2 linked regions of the Homo sapiens genome follow. The protein of the gene in region 2 interacts with the protein of the main gene of each other region in a pairwise test. Each region holds a gene or a part of one and is shown on either strand. Other genes may lie near its edges. The genes, in order: CD86 and ECE2.

The links.
Region 1: the proteins of ECE2 (region 2) and CD86 interact in a two-hybrid assay, tested with the Homo sapiens proteins (one large-scale study listed by BioGRID).

What each region holds. Positions count from the first base shown.
Region 1 is NC_000003.12:122,103,548-122,107,366, reverse strand, and holds part of CD86 (T-lymphocyte activation antigen CD86 isoform 1 precursor), read right to left. Parts: coding exon 3,520-3,819; intron 1,170-3,519; coding exon 867-1,169; intron 1-866. UniProt on the Homo sapiens protein: Receptor involved in the costimulatory signal essential for T-lymphocyte proliferation and interleukin-2 production, by binding CD28 or CTLA-4.
Region 2 is NC_000003.12:184,282,375-184,286,193, reverse strand, and holds part of ECE2 (endothelin-converting enzyme 2), read right to left. Parts: intron 2,410-3,819; coding exon 2,221-2,409; intron 1,232-2,220; coding exon 1,089-1,231; intron 717-1,088; coding exon 602-716; intron 1-601. Other genes in the region: EEF1AKMT4-ECE2 readthrough transcript protein, read right to left, coding at 602-716, 1,089-1,231, 2,221-2,409. UniProt on the Homo sapiens protein: Converts big endothelin-1 to endothelin-1. Also involved in the processing of various neuroendocrine peptides, including neurotensin, angiotensin I, substance P, proenkephalin-derived peptides, and prodynorphin-derived peptides.

The sequences.
Region 1 (3,819 bases), about 62 Mb from region 2:
TCCTGCACTTACGTCAGATACAGCTGATCCACTGTGGTCCTCTCACCTGCTTAGCCCAGATACTGTCTCAAATTTTTTCAGCTACGGAAGTCACCACAGTTTTGGGAACCTGTCATCCAGAATGCCCTCCCCTCCTCACCACATTTATTAACCCCAATAATTTATTTTACATGTTACAAGGTACCCCTTCCTTTAGGAACCATTCCCTGACCCTCAGGGATCTTGCCTACCTCTGAATGCCCATAAATCTCATTACCAGTCACTTTTATTTTAAATTTAGTCAGATATTTCCATGGAATAAAATTTAGATTCCAATTCAACCTTTTAAAAATCCAGTTTTTCATGTGTGCACATTACAGGGTTCTGATTCTATTGGAAGGTCCTCAAGGGCAGAGGGGGTGTCATATCTTTTTGTTTTCACTCCTGTGACCAATAATGTCCCAAATGGTTCTATACTCACAATAAATATCATTTGTATGTCTGCATGTATGCATGGTGTGTGTGTGTGTGTGTGTGTGTGTGTGTGCAAGCGCATGTATGTGTTGTAATCAAAGAAAGAATTCTAGCCTGGAGGAATCCTGTATTTTTAAATCAAAACTTCAGAATCCTCCATCCAAAGGTAAACCAAGAGACTGAGTCAGTTTCAGGGCTAAAAGCATATTTCTTCAAGTGCAACATAGGCTCGTAGCCTCCTGGACCCTGCATCACTCAGGAGAAGCAGGAGACCTCCATCTGGGTCCTTCCTAACAGCGTCATAAAATGGCCCAGTTGGAGGTTTCCTAGCAAGTCGGGGACATTGGATGATCTGCCTTAAGCATTTGTGTATAATACCTGCTGAAAGAAATAGTCTTGGAAAACAGCTTTACCTATAGAGAAAGGTGAAGATAAAAGCCGCGTCTTGTCAGTTTCCAGAATACAGAAGATGGTCATATTGCTCGTAACATCAGGGAATGAAACAGACAAGCTGATGGAAACGTCGTACAGTTCTGTGACATTATCTTGAGATTTCTGCATAACACCATCATACTCGATAGTTGAATTCTTGGTTCTTAGCAAAACACTCATCTTCTTAGGTTCTGGGTAACCGTGTATAGATGAGCAGGTCAAATTTATGTACACATTTTCTGTTATATTAGAAATTGGTACTATTTCAGGTTGACTGAAGTTAGCTGAAAGCAGAAGAGAGATAAAAAAAAATCAATCTAAGTTTAGATGTATCTAGGAGGGAATAGCAAATAACTGGGTACTTGATCTGGGGCTCATTGGGGCACACCTGGGAGCCTCAGGGTGTCTAAAATGTGACCCTCAGCCCAAGGTGAGTGCCACATAATGACTTCATGTTTATTTTTCAACAATAGAGTTTGCAGCCATGCTTACTTCCTGCTTATCCAAATCAAAGGGGTGCTCTCTAAGTGACAGGAGGGCTGTAATTGAGTCACCAAAGATTTACAATGAAGCCACTGTTTCCAGGGAGTAGAGTCTTTGGAAGGAGAAGTGGTCTGACTCTAGGGCCCAGGTGTCCCATGGGGCACATTCCAGCTCCCCAGACTAAGAGAGCAGGAAGGAATTGAGCTGGAGTCTCACCAGGAACTGACAGAGTTCATGGTGCTGAGATGCCCTGCGTCATATCTTTCAGAAACCCAAGCAGGATTGTGGTAAGTGAGTGGGTGGATATTTTGGAATTCGAAATTCAGAACACTGATTTTTGGCATGAGCATCAAAGTGTCTTCATAACATACTCTAAGAAGAAGGCCAAATCCAGCTATTTTAGGGAAAAATACATGATCTTAATAAACACAGTGTTTCTCTTGCCTTTGCCATTCTCACTTTTCTGGCTGTTCAGGATCACTGGCATGGAGTCCCTAGACCTGTGTCATGTGCCTTCTGTCAGAAAAAATCCCTTGTTCTTTTATAGTTACTAGGTAGTTTGCAGGTTCTACAAACTAATTTATAATTTAGTGTATTCTTACTAAAAGGTCTGTCATTTGCATGTCATCTTTATAAGTTTTGCTATATCAGTGTACTATTTGAGCAGTCTTCTTGGAGTCTATGTGGCCTGTAGAAGGTGAATTGCCAGACCGTGTTTAGCTTCATTAACAAGATCTGTGAAATCACATGTTGCGTAAGTTAGAGTTTTTCTAATATACATTAAAACAAATACAACATGGCTTTTCAAAATGCTTATCTGTGTCCCACCTAAAACATTTCCAATGGTACCTGACCACATTTTGAAAACACGGATTTAGCACTTGGTTAACTATTCCTAAAGCCCTGCAGCCTAGTTTAAATCACACAGGGTTCAAAGGGAGCAGCTCTCCATTCTATTTTTACTTTTGCTTCTGTTTTACTCTATGGTTTTAGAATAGGTGTTGATCTGCCTTTTCAAGTTTCATCAAAAATTAACCTGGATCCAGTAATACCACACCTGGGTATTTCCTCTAGAGAACTGAGAACTTATGTTCACACAAAAACCTGTACATGAACGTTTACAGCAGCCTTATTCATAAGAGCCCCAAACCAGAAACAACCCAATGTCTTTTACTGAGTTGAATGGATAAACAATAAAATGCTACTCAGCAATAAAAAGGGACAAGCTCGATATGTGCAACAACTTGGGTGAATCTCGAAGGCGCGCTAAACGAAAGAAGCCAGGCTTAAAAGGTTACATACTGTGTGGCTTCACTTATGTGACACTGTCAAAAAGACAAAACTATAGGATGCCCAACAAGGGTTATGAGTGCAGACAGGGTATGACTCTATGAAGGGACAGCCTGAGGGAAATTTTTAGGGTGATAGAAATGCTCTATGTCCTGTGGCGGTTACCTAAATCTATACAAGATCTATACAATCAGTAGAACAGTATATCAAAACAAAAAAAAATAATTTTACTGTGTGATAGTTTTAAAAAAATCTGTAGTGGCATTTAGGCCTTCCAAGGTCTCGTGAAGCAGAGGAGCTGGTTTGTAAGTTTGTGGGTTATGTTTGTTGGGTTTTTTTCCCTTCTGTCTACCAGGCTCATGGTTGTGGCAGCAAACAACTCATAAGCAACCTAGAGGAGGCTGAAGGGAAAACCCAAATGTGTCAGCTGTCCGCTTTGCTAGGAGCTCCAGGCAAAGATTTAGTAGGTGAAAAATCTTGGACCCAAGGAAAAAATGAATGTAAGACATCTGAGGCCTTTATGGTTATATAAACTTTGTGATGGCCAAATTATCCATGGTTTTTACTATAGGTAATTAGCCATATTATCTTTGTTCAATTAGCTCTATTTTTTCCCCAAAGCAGATTTTTACTGATCCTTCAGAAGCAGACTATAAAAAGTACAAAAGACTTTCAGTTCCCTACTCCCAGACTCTACACTCCCTTCAAATGCACTTCCCAGAAGTGGCTGTCCTCTGCCTTCTCTCTATAGACCCCCCTTTTCCCCTGGGCCCCTCAAGTCCCCCTCCAGTGTTTTTCTAACTCATTTGCAGTCTCATCTGAGAAGGCTAAGAATCTGAACACACACCATTGACCACATACCAAGCACTGACAGTTCAGAATTCATCTGGTGGATGCGAATCATTCCTGTGGGCTTTTTGTGATGGATGATACATTGATACAAGCCCTTGTCCTTGATCTGAAGATTGTGAAGTCTCAGGGTCCAACTGTCCGAATCAAAACTTGTGCGGCCCATATACTTGGAATGAACACTGTCAAATTTCTCTTTGCCTAAGTATACCTCATTCAGAACCAAGTTTTCCTGGTCCTGCCAAAATACTACTAGCTCACTCAGGCTTTGGTTTTGAGAGTTTGCAAATTGGCATGGCAGGTCTGCAGTCT
Region 2 (3,819 bases):
TGTCCCTGGAATGCCCTTCTCCCCGGCTTTCTTGGTGAACTTTTCCATCACATGGCACCTCTCAGAGAAGGCTTCTCTGATGCCCTTCCCCACCATCCCCCCAGGTGAAATGTGCTGTCCCACCTCTGTCCTATAGCAGAAAAGTCTTTCACTCAGTGTGAGCAGTTATCACCACAAAATATAATGTATTTGTTTACATGTCCACTCCCCCCACTTAATGGGGCATCTTGAAACTAAATACTCACTTATTTATTATATCCTCTCCATCCTCCTCATCAAAGCCGAGTGCCTATACATACCATGTACTGTGCAGGTGCTTCACTTACATTAACTCAGCTAATACTCTTCCTGACAACCCTCCAAGTTATTCCTGCTTTACAGAGCAGGAAATGGAGAGTCAGAGAGGCTAGGTGATCTGCCCAAGGTCCTACAGGCTAGAAAATGAATGAGTTGGGATTGAAACGCAAGTCGGCTTGCTTCCAAATTCTGCGCTCCATACTATGCACCTGTGCACCATGAGGCACATGGTGCCTGTCACACTGAAGGTATGCAGCATCGGTTAGACTGGATCAGAACGTGGAGGCAAAATCAGAAAGCCCACCTTCTTAGTGCCATAGAGGGTCTCCAGCAGCTTCTCTTGTGCAGACTCAAAGCGTCGGTCCAGGCTTGAGGTTGTCTTTTGCACCAGGTTCCAGATCAGGTAATTGTTCAGGATGCTGACAACCAGACCAGAAAATAAGAAAAGGGCAGGTGGGATGCCCTTCACACCCCTCAAACCAGCCCCCAGGAACATGCAAGTTGCAGGAGTCCCGAGAGGCATATGTGGAAGCTGTCCCGGGGTTCCTCTTTGGTCCCGGGGCCACACACCTGCCTGTAGAGGTCAGGTTGGAGAGCAGTGGGGGGACAGAGATCACAGGGAGCACCCTGCAACCCTAGCGCAGAGGAAAAGCCCATAGACATTCTGATTCAATGTTTGGAAGGCCCATAGCATTACCAAATGTTGTTCTGTGTGGCTGGGCCTGTCCATTATGCCCAGCCTTGCTGGAGACCTCCACAGAACCCACCCTCACCCTGGGCTACCCCCACACCTTGGTTCCGTGCGGTTGATGAGCTCTGACACCTGCTGCAAATAATCCATCCCATACACCACCACAGGCTCAGAGTCACTCAACTCCAATGGTGACAGCAAGAAAGACAGGAACTCAAGCCAGTCCATGGAGGGCGCCAGAGCCTGAAAGAAAAAAATCTCAGGCCTTGCCTGCCCGACTCGCTTCCAGCAGAACCCTCCCCCACTGTATGCTGTAGCCTGGGAGCCCTTCCCATTGCCATAGCAACAACTACTGGCTTCATGGTGTATCCTTCCTGTAATATACCCTTTTCCAGGCCTGGACACCTCCAATCTGGGAGCCCAACCACTTATTATACAAGGATAACCACTACATGTGACATTCAGCTGGGGCCTAGATATTCAAATATTTTCCTAACAATTGATAAAATACCACTCCCAACACCCTGCACGTACTGGCTTCTCCTCCAGAACCACACTCCATCCCAACTTTTCCATAATCCAACATCTAAAGTGTTAATGGCCTGGCACAGTACGGGTCCCCCAGTGGAAACTTTCACTTCTATTTTTTTTTTTTTTTTTTTTGAGATGGAGTTTCGCTCTTGTCACCCAAGCTGGAGTGCAATGGCGCAATCTCAGCTCACTGCAACCTCCGCCTCCCAGGTTCAAGCGATTCTTCTACCTCAGCCTCCCGAGTAGCTGGGATTACAGGCATGTGCCACCACACCCGGCTAATTTTTTATTTTTAGTAGAGATGGGGTTTCACCATGTTGGCTAGGCTGGTCTTGAACTCCCAACCTCAGGCGATCCACCCGCCTCGGCCTCCCAAAGTGCTGGGATTACAGATGTCAGCCACCATGCCCAGCCTATTCTGATTGTTTTGTGGACATCTCATACAAACTGTTACACATTTTTAACACAATCCCTCCATGCATCCCCAGGCAAGAAAGGGACCAAAGGATGACCCAGTGAGAGGTGGCCTAAATGGACACCATTTTTTTCCCCAGGACAGCAGCAGTGCAGCTGGGGAGCACAGAAAAGCAAGGGAATGAGGAAAGGACTGGCTGCCTTGGGGAGATGGCATGGAGGGAAGCTGGGTGGTCCATGCCAAGGCTGGCCCCTCTCAGTTGTCTCCAGCCCCCTGCCTGCCCCACCTGCAGCTCCGAAATGCTCATCTTGTGGTAGATCTTCTCCTCGTCGCGCCGCTGGTCCTGGGGCACTGTGATGTTGGCCAGCTGTATCTCCAACTCCAGCACCTGCTGCATCTGCTCCCTCGTGGAGGTGGGCCGCCCACCCAGCAGCATCCCCAGTTCCTCCATGTAATCCAGATAGGCAGTGAGCACCTGTCAAGGCCCGGGTGATCCTCAGAGCCCAGCAACAAGTCCTGCCCAAGGCTGAGATCTGTTCTTACCACCACCTCTGCCCAATATCTCTTCTGCTTGATCCTTCTGGAAGCCTTTCTGGATGACCTGTTTCATTTCTGACACACTGCTTACCTCCATTGGCTAAGTATTGTTTACTTACTTCTTCTTCTTCTTTTTTTTTTTTTTTTTTTTTTTTTTTTTTGAGATGGAGTCTCACTCTGTTGCCCAGGCTGGAGTGCAGTGGCGCGATCTTGGCTCACTGCAACCTCCACCTCCTGGGTTCAAGTGATTCTCCTGCTGCAGCCTCCCAAGTAGCTGGGACTACAGGCGTGTGCCACCACGCCTGGCTAATTTTTTGTATTTTTAGTAGAGACGGGGTTTCACCATGTTAGCCAGGCTGGTCTCGAACTCCTGACCTCAGGTGATCTGCCCGCCTCGGCCTCTCAAAGTGCTGGGATTACAGGCATGAGCCACTGCACCCGGCCATGTTTACTTACTTCTGTACTTGTTTATCATCTATTTCTCCAAGGAGAAGGTGAGTTCCAGCAGAGCATTGTTCCAAGTTACAGCAGCTTACTCACTGCTGTCTCTAGGGACTAGAACACAGAGTAAGTGCTCTGCAAATGTCTGTCCAGCAGATGGGCCTACTTCCCATACTGCTTTGCCTTCTCATTTCCTAGATCCCTGCTAGTTGTCCCAGCCCATCAGTGACCATGTGCCTTCTCTGAACAGCTGACTGGACCTCACAGGGGATCGGGGCCATGGTGTCCTCAGGCCTCTATTACCTCCCATCCTGCCAGGCCTCAAGCTAGCTGCTTTCTCCACTACCCGCTGGTCTCCAAGGGAGAGAAAAGCATGGAGAAGAAATATTTAGTGACCACTTCTGCAGACATACATCAGACTCTCTATTAGAGGCTTTCCATACAGTGTATCTTTTCCTCCCCACACAGCAACTTCATGAAGTGAAGATGAGTCCCATTTCACACCCCAGGGCAGAAGCTTGGGAAGATGACACGGCTTGACTTCCATCACAAACTAGCAGATGGCAGAGTGAGAATGTGGCCCAGGCCTGATGACCCCAGGGCCATGGCGGCCCTGGCCCTGCTCGGGTCCAGTACAAACTCATGTGGCCTCACCCCTGCTGGCCCTGAGGCTCCATGAAAGCAGGGCTGGGTTTGCTTTGTTCACCACTGTAATTTCAGACCCAAGCGCAGCTGTCTGCCACAGAGTAGGTGCTCAATAAATATCTGTTGAATAACAGGGCGAAAACCTGCAAACAGACACTCAACACTGCTCTGTGCCAATTCCCTTAACCCTCCTCCCAGAAACCACTTCCCACTCAACCTGAAGGCCCACCTGGGCTCCACTAATCGCCAAAGGCCATCTCTT